Regions from separate parts of the Homo sapiens genome. Here regions 1 and 2 are each linked to region 3. The links come from fine-mapping of genetic effects on gene expression. A gene starts in region 3. Each other region holds a variant in brackets. All regions are shown on one strand. Distances are from middle to middle.

Evidence for each region. PIP is the estimated chance that this variant, and not a neighbour inherited with it, causes the effect.
Region 1: its variant is fine-mapped to the expression of WDTC1 in whole blood (INTERVAL, PIP above 0.99).
Region 2: its variant is fine-mapped to the expression of WDTC1 in whole blood (TOPMed, PIP above 0.99).

Annotation. Positions count from the first base shown.
Region 1 is chr1:27,307,835-27,310,588 of GRCh38, reverse strand. It overlaps WDTC1 (WD and tetratricopeptide repeats 1), which reads right to left. Exons shown (of 16, transcript NM_001276252.2): 16 at 1,953-2,754. Among named protein-coding and RNA genes, the nearest start is that of TMEM222, 13 kb to the left of the region's middle. RefSeq lists enhancers at 1,757-2,281, 2,282-2,754. The variant T/AT (reference allele first, on the strand shown) is at 1,421.
Region 2 is chr1:27,330,429-27,333,182 of GRCh38, reverse strand. TMEM222 (transmembrane protein 222) reads right to left here. Exons shown (of 6, transcript NM_032125.3): 2 at 2,379-2,463; 3 at 1,082-1,113. Among named protein-coding and RNA genes, the nearest start is that of TMEM222, 9.6 kb to the right of the region's middle. The variant AAGG/G (reference allele first, on the strand shown) is at 1,303.
Region 3 is chr1:27,233,149-27,235,902 of GRCh38, reverse strand. It overlaps WDTC1 (WD and tetratricopeptide repeats 1), which reads right to left and starts at 1,271. Exons shown (of 16, transcript NM_001276252.2): 1 at 952-1,271. WDTC1-DT (WDTC1 divergent transcript) reads left to right here and starts at 1,474. Exons shown (of 3, transcript XR_947117.2): 1 at 1,474-1,641; 2 at 2,301-2,458. RefSeq lists silencers at 592-641, 802-851, 1,042-1,191, 1,392-1,451.

The DNA of each region.
Region 1 (2,754 bases), 75 kb before region 3:
CATTATACTATCTGCTCAATTTTCTGTAAGCCTAAAACTGCTCTAGAAAGTAAAGGCTATTAATTTTTTAAAAAATGGAGTACCAACTCCAAATGAAATGGAGACCCTCGTGAAGTCTTCCAATGCCTCCCTTGCCTACAGGATTGAGTCTGTGGTCTCTCACCAGCCATAGGAAGTCCTTCAGTTTGACTGCTCCTCCAGTCTACCCTCTACAATCCAGCCAGATGGAGTCACTCAGGGTTCATGAAGGAACCTGAGACTCTGCACTACTCCCTGGTCTGGAACATTGTCCTTCCTTTGTCTGGTCTGGAAATGCCTTCAAGAAGCTTCTGCAGACGTTAATTTGGGTACACAGAGGAATGATACCAGCCCACAGTATCTGTTTTATAATACCACCTATTGTGTTTCCGGCAGGACCTCTCAGTAGTTTCAGTAGTGGAACTGCTATTCCCACAGACTAAACCATAGTTCCCCAACTGTGCATCAAGGTGCCTGAGGGCACCCACAGCAAATTCACAGGGGGCAAAGTAGGATATTTTGAAAGATATTCAACATCTTTGGCTAATGAGAGAACTATTAGCTCAAGGTAGTTCACAGTTCCATTATTACATTATGCCACAATCCTTTTGATGATGTCATCTTTAAGAAGCTGGGTCTTGGCCGGGCGCAGTGGCTCATGCCTGTAATCCCAGCACTTTGGGAGGCCGAGGCGGGTGGACCACAAGGTCAGGAGAGCGAGACCATCTTGGCTAACGTGGTGAAACCCCATCTCTACTAAAAACATAAAAAATAAGCCAGGTCTGGTGGCAGCTGCCTGTAGTCCCAGCTACTCAGGAGGCTGAGGCAGGAGAATGGCATGAACTCAGAAGGTGGAGCTTGCGGTGAGCCGAAATCGCACCACTGCACTCCAGCCTGGGCAACAGAGCAAGACTCCGCCTCAAAAAAAAAAAAAAAAAAAAAAAAGAAGCTGGGTCTTTAGTGGTTGCTGTGATAAAAAGCAAATGAAAATCAATGTGGGACAGGAAATGAAGGCAGCAGTGTTTGCTTTGATTAGAAAATTTAACAAGTTGTTCAGTGCCCAATGGGCAGCATAGATCCCATTAGTAATTGCAGTTGTTTAAGAATGAAGGCTGGGCGCGGTGGCTCACACCTGTAATCCCAGCACTTTGGGAGGTTGAGGCGGGCAGATCACCTGAGGTCAGGAGTTTGAGACCAGCCTGGCCAAGGTGGTGAAACCCCATCTCTGCTAAAAATACAAAAAATTAGCTGGGTGTGGTGGCGGGCACCTGTAATCCCAGCTACTTGGGAGGCTGAGGCAGGAGAATCGCTTGAACCCAGGAGGCGGAGGTTGCAGTGAGCCGCAATTGCACAATTGCACTCCAGCCTGGGCGACAAAAACGAAACTGTCTCAAAAAAAAAA[T/AT]AAAAAATAAAAAATAAATAAAAATGCAAAAAAAAAAAAATAGCTGGGCATGGTGGCACATGCCTGTAATCCCAGCTACTTGGGAGGCTGAGGTAGGAGAATCACTTGAACCCGGGAGGCGGTGGTTGCAGTGAGCTGAGATCATGCCACTGCACTCCAGCCTGGGCAACAGAGCAAGACTCCGTCTCAAAAAAAAAAAAAAAAAAAAAGAATGAAATAAATATTGTTTCTTCCAATTCAGGTGTATTATTTTTTAAATGGCAACTAACTTGTTAGGACATAAATACTTTTTAAGTGATTTGGACTTAACTACTTAATAAATTGAACTGTTATTTCTTTTGGCTTAGAGGCTCCATGAAAAAATTACTGAGATGGTAATGGTGCTGTGAGCTAAGAAAGTTCAGGAACCTATAGTCTAAGAGATTATCTAATCCAGGGCACTTCAAAAACTTGCATATGTGAAATCAATTTAGTGGGTTATAGCCATATTTTTTTCCCTAATAAAACAGAAGGGTAAGCAGAGTACACTGCATGTAGCAAGGGTAAATATTATTGTGTAAAACTTTTGTTCATTTTTTTTATATATATATACACACACACATATCTACAAGTAATCATGTGTATATTGGGTCACAATGTAAAATGGTTTGAAAAACCACTAAGATTCCAAGTCCCTTATTTTACTGATGAGAAAACAGCCAGAGAGTGAAAGCTGATGATTACAAATCACAGCCATGAGAGCTGGGCTCTGCACTCAGCCCTGCTGGGCTGGGTGGCCGCTGCTCACGGTGACCCTTCAAGGCAGGCCTCATTCTGTCCAGTAGAGGTGTGGTTACTAAGTCATAGAGCTACAGAGGTGAGGGACCAGGTGCCCTCACTTTGGTTCCAAGACCCATCTGCACCCCACAAATGCCACCAGCCACACCTAGAACAAAATGGTTTTAATCAATTGCGTCACCCTCACTCTCCTGGGAGCGGAGCAACAAAAAGGCTCGGCTCCTGCCCCCAGAGGACAGTAAGGCTTATGTGTCTCTCCACACTGCAGGGCCCAGGCTGGGCAGGCAGGGGGTGGGAAGCAGGACAGGGGGCAGGGAGGGAGGGTGGGAGGCAGGGAGGAAATGGCAGGTGGCTGGAACACAAGAAAGCAAAGGGGACCCAGCTGGTCCTTGGGCCCCAGGGCCCAGCCCCAATACTCCTGCTCTCCCTTCTCCCTGGCTAGAGAAAGGTCACGGAGAAGAGACAGGGGAGCAGGTCCCAGCAGCAGGAGAAGCAGCAGCAGCTGTTTCCTTCACCAATAAATATACTTCATTACCAAGCTAGAAGAGAGGGGTGGG
Region 2 (2,754 bases), 97 kb before region 3:
GCAGCTAAGGCTGGAGATGCAGGTGAGGCCACATCACGCGGGGAGTTTACCCAGCAGCAAGCACTCTCCCCTAGTCTCCCAGGCAGCTTGCCAGGGTGAGTGGCAGGGAAGCTGATGGTGCTAAAGCCCATAAACCTCAAGGTGGGTGAGAATTGCTGTTCCAAGCACCAGAGTGCCCGGTGGGTCTCAGGCCAAGGAGAGCTGGGAGGTCAGGGCGCCCCCTGGCTGTTGTGTAGGGGAATGGCTTGGTGGAGGAGTCTAGAGACCATGGCCTGGACTGGGGCCGCTTAGGGGCTACTGCTTGGAAAATGATGCCCTTAAAACTGTCCTTGAAGAGCAGTCTGGCAGCGAACACCTGGTGGCCCAGAGACTCCTGGACTACACTGCTGCCTGCCGGAGGAAGCCAGAGAGGGCAGCAGGAAGCCCTGCTCCAGGCCATCTCAGCTGTGTGGGACACCAACTCCTCCTCGGCCCAGTCTCTCCTCCCAGTGCAGCCTTGGGCAACAGGTCACCTGAGGACACTGATGACTGAGGCACTCTCACCAGGCCCACAGCTGAGGTGGGCACCCGAGACTGCAAAGATGAAGACCAAATGTCCCAAACCAAACCAGCAATAGCTCCCAGAAGGTTGAACGGTTTTTATTCTCTCCAACCAGAACTTTCCAGCAGAGCTCCAAACAATGCCTCTCTTCTACCTTCCATGCCTCATTTGTTCCCAAAGGGCAGGAGAGTGAGTCTAGAGGGAGACAGATCTGGGTGTGGGTCCCAGCTCTGCCACTTCCTGTGTGACCTTGACCAAGTCCCTTCCCTTTCCTCACCCTTGCCATGGAGTTGAAAATACAAACCTGAAGAGCTGTGGCAAGGCCCAGATGGTCTACAGGTAAAGGCCCTAGCCAGGGGCTGGTGCGGTACACACTCTGTATGGGGTTGCCATGCTCTGGTGGACCCTGGCTGACCTCTCCCCCGACCCCAAATACTCTATTCTCAGGGTGCTGGCCCCTCCTGTGCCCCAGAAGGCCTGGCCCGCCCCGGCAGGAGCGACCTGCCTCTAGAGCCAGTCACATGGGTGTTCATCACTTACTTGGCAGGCTTTCCAAAGGCCATGTTGTCCTCCTGTTGAGGGACAAAAGCAGAGGTCAGTGAGGAACTTACATTTGGGCCAGATGACAAACCTGGGTAGGTGGCAGAAGTGCAGTGACTTAGAAGAGGGTATGTCAGGGGTGGGGGGGCCAGAAGTGGGGCCTGGGCCCTGCCCTGGGGCTGGCATGGCATCTAAAGAGCTAGCAGCTGTTCTGCAGGAAG[AAGG/G]CAGTGTGGCACAAGTGCACAGAGCACTGCATCAGAGACCAAAGATCTGGGGCTCCAGCTGCCACTGTCCCTTGGTGTGGCACCCAGGAATTCTCTTGCCCTCTCTGGGCCTCATTTTCTCCAAGTTCTCTGGTCAGTCTTCTCTGATCTCTGAGGACCAGCAGGAGGTTTCCATCATGGTCTGGCCTCCTGACTCAACAGTGGTGGCCCACATGGAGACCATCTCCTCGCCCAGCAGTCTGACTGCATTCATAGCAGGGCGGGGGCGCTGGGCCCAGAGGGACTTCCTGTGAGGGAGACACTGCAGTGAAGTCCTAGACTCATCACATTATTCCTGGGGTACAGGACTTACACAGAGACAGACTCTGGGTTCAGATCAGGGAGACCCTGCTGACAGACCTGGTCAATGATTAATCACCATAAAAATATATGATAAAGTAATGGATGTGAAAGTATTTTTAAGTACAAAGTGACAGACCTTTGTCGTGTTAAGATGATCATGACAACTATTAATATAAACAGGTTGGTGCCACCACACCCCTTCAGTCCAGCCTCTGACACCTGGAGACAGGATGATGCATGCTCCTCTGCTGCTAGCCCACTGGACCAGTCTTGGTCACAGCCCCAGGGAACAGACCTGAGAACACAGCTGCTTCATTCTAAAGCCCCACCCCCTCTTCTCCATGGCCACACCCAGGGAACCGAATCAGCCTCCCGTGTCCCCCCACCTTGACTCCCACCTTCTGAAGGTCCAGAGATGTGGTTCCTGGATGGTCTGACTCTCCACTCTTGCCTCTAATCCCTACCCATGTCTCGGTACCCCAGGGGTGGGGGCAAAGGGCTGGGTCAGTTACTTAAGAATCCTTCTGGCCACACTGCCCTCCCGGCCTGTCCTGGAGGCAAGAGAAGGGGGAAAGGGGTCAAACACTGGTGAGGGGCAGAGGGCCAGGGCCAGGACTGCGGGTTATCTACGTTCTCCTGGGTCTGGGGAGACGAAGCCTGCCTGCAGGCAAGACAGGACAGCCTTCCACTTAAACCTTGGAACCCCCCGGGTGGGCAGAATGGGGACTCACTGAGACAAAGTAGGGGCCCGCGAAGTCCCGAATGACTCCTGTGGATGTGCAGATGCCCATGTGGCCGATGATGGGGAAAAACCACCTGTGAGGAAAAGGACGGGGAAGGGACAGAGCTTAGGGGATCTTTCAGCCAGTTAGACGGACGCTGGGGACCCTTCATACAGTACAGAAGCATGTGAATATTACGTTTCATTGACAGGTGGCCATTAGGGTGGTCCAGAAGGCTGGGGAAGCACAGACAAGGGTAACTGCAAACCGACAGCACAATGGGATACCTCAGCATCCCGCCAGGATGGCTGTAACTCAAACGACAGCAACACCAATGCAGGTGAGGGCAAGGGACAACCAGAGCTCTCATTCACTGCTGGTGGGA
Region 3 (2,754 bases):
GAAGCTTCAGCCACCCTACCAGGCTCCTAAAATCACCAACTTGAGAGAAAAACTATAACGTTGCTCTACCAGTACTTCAGGAGGTTAAAGAAAGTCACAGAAGAAAAGAACTCTGGGGAAAACAGTCAAATTCGGCTATTAAGACATTAGTTACAGGCCCCTGTACCTCTCCTCTAGAAACCCTGGGAGTACACCCGCAGAGGAGAGAGAGCCCAAGCCACCAAGCAAAGTCAACCAATCTGGCAAAGGGGCGTCCCACTGCGGCTTTCAGTCCAAGAAGTGGATCCTGCTGGTTCGCAGTCTCTCTTCTATCTCCTCACTTCCTATTTACCCTTTGAAGTGGGTACTGAATAGCCCGTTCCCAAGCAGAGGCCCTTTGTATACGGGGTGCTACAGTCGCCTGGTGGAAACACCTTGGCAGAGTTGTTTGGTGCCAGGATGGGCCACTGAAGGCATCTGCTGTGGACACACACACACACACACACACACACACACACACACACACACAGAAAGAGAGAGAGAAAAACAGAAAGAGAGAGAGCGAGAAGCTAAGAGGGCAGGTCAGGTCGGCGTTGCCCTCCCAGCACTTACACCTGCCCCTTCTTCCTGACTCCGGCGCCAGATCAGATGTCAAACAAAAACTCCGCAAAAAAGTCCCATGATGGAATGACTTCCACCTCTCCCTCCGCAGAGCCTCCCCGGACTCCCACAGCCTCCCCCCGCGTCCCGACCAAACCCTCCGCCCCCACCCCGCCCCCGGACCACTCTGCCCTCCGCCCCGGCGAGGCCTGGCCCCTCTCGGGACACCCGGGGCCCCGAGGCGGGTAGGCTCAGGCCCCCAGGCCGGCAGGGCTGGAGCCGGCCCAGAGCGGGCGGCCCGTTCACCGGGGCTGCGGGAGCCGGTCCCCGCCTCGGCGCCCGCGGAGGGCAGGGGGCGGCGGTGACCCGTACCTGTCAGGTCTCTTCCCCCGACCGGCAGCGGCGCAACTTCAGGAGCCCATGTCCGTCCGGGGGGGGCGGCCCCTCTCCCGGGAAGGGGGGCGCGGATCCCGGGGAGGGGGCTGGGGGGCTCGAGCAGTTCTAGCCCCTTCCCATGCTCCCCGCCCGGCGCCTGGCCGGGGCCGGACAGCGCCTCCGCCCGCCCCTGCGCACCGCCTCACACCCGCGCTCACACACACTCACACTCCCTCGCGCGCTCTCACACACGCACTCCCCTCCCTCCTCCTCCTCTGTTTATCTCCTCCAGCTGTCTGGGGACCCAGGAGAAGCCCAGCAACGCGCCTGCGCCACGCAGTCTCCGCCTCCGCCCTGCGCCTCGCAGCCGGCGGGTACGCTACGAAGACTGCGCCCGGCCGCTTCCAGAATGGCTAGCCGGGCCCCCCCACTTACCCCCCCGCGCCCGGTCAACGTCTGCTGCCGGCGGCGCCCACTAACCTGCTAGTGGGGGAGCCCCGCACCGCCGTGGCCAATGGGCTTCGCCGCTTGCGGGACCGGCAGCCAGTGGGCGGGCGGGAAAGCTGGGCTAAGCCCTGGGGCACCCTGGGAGTCGTAGTTTTTCGCCGTCGAGGAGTTCCTGCAGAGCGGGCTCACCCCGCCCGGTTGCCATTAGTTACCCGGACGCACCTCCCACCCCACCACCGGGTAAAACGCTCCTCACACCGCTTCTGGGACACCCGCCCACACGCTCGCCCACTGAACCCCAGGTCCCCTCACAGCCCCTTAAGAGCTCCTAAGACTTCCTCTCAGCCCCCGAATTCTGGGACCTCTCAGGCTAGGGCCCCGGGGGGCTCCTCAGCCCACTCCTTCCTGCTCTGGGGGGCTGCTGAAGTGGCACAGTCCTCACTGACGTCTCCTGGGCCTTAAGGAAGAGAATGAAAGAGAATCGGGCCTACGCTGAGTAGCCTGGAGAGGAGTCAGCCACACACACTCTGGGTGCCCTCGGGGTGATGGGAGCGACTAGGTCCATCTGACCCTAGCGGAGTCACTGCTGCTCCCACCTCTGAGGAAGAGACGCAGTTCCAGCCTTGTGGAGTCCCGGGTCTGATGGAGGAGAGACCCTCCTCTTTATTAAGGAAGTTCCCAAGGTGACAAGGGTGGCACTAAGCCTATCTTCTTAAGGCAGAGACCAGGCCCCACCCGTGAAACCTCAAGTCAGAAAGGGAAGACGTGTCACCTTCTGACAAAGGAAACTTGTCACCCATAGGGTGCCATTTGTCAGATACTAACAATAATTCACTTTTATTCGCACTGGATTGGGTACAGTCTCTTAGCTAGGTACTATTGCTGTCTGTGTTTTGCAGAAAAGGAAAGCTGAAGCAGAAAGGCTAAAAGCAACTTGCCCCCGGGGTCCTGATAAGTTGGCAAATTGGGAATTAGACCCAGATCTGCCTGACACCAGAGTCTGAGCCTTTTAACACTGCCTGTCTTTCCTGTGAAAACCAGACAGCACCCGCTCTCAGTAAGGACTGAATATATGTATTTGGCATTTATAGTGTTTATCACTCCATGTGTCGCTTGTTTTTTTTTTTTTTTTTTTTTTTTTTTTCCAATTCTGCTCACATCATGAGTACGAATTTGTCTGTGAATACCTGAATACTCCCAGAGACAAAGGTAGTATTCTAATTGCTGGTGATTTCTCCGCAAGGGAGATTTCTCCCCATTTAGAGGAGTAAGAACCTATCCTTGTGAAACCGCTCACAAAGCCTTTTATGCCTTTCTCCTAAAAATATTGTGGGTCATTCCCCCTGAACTCTC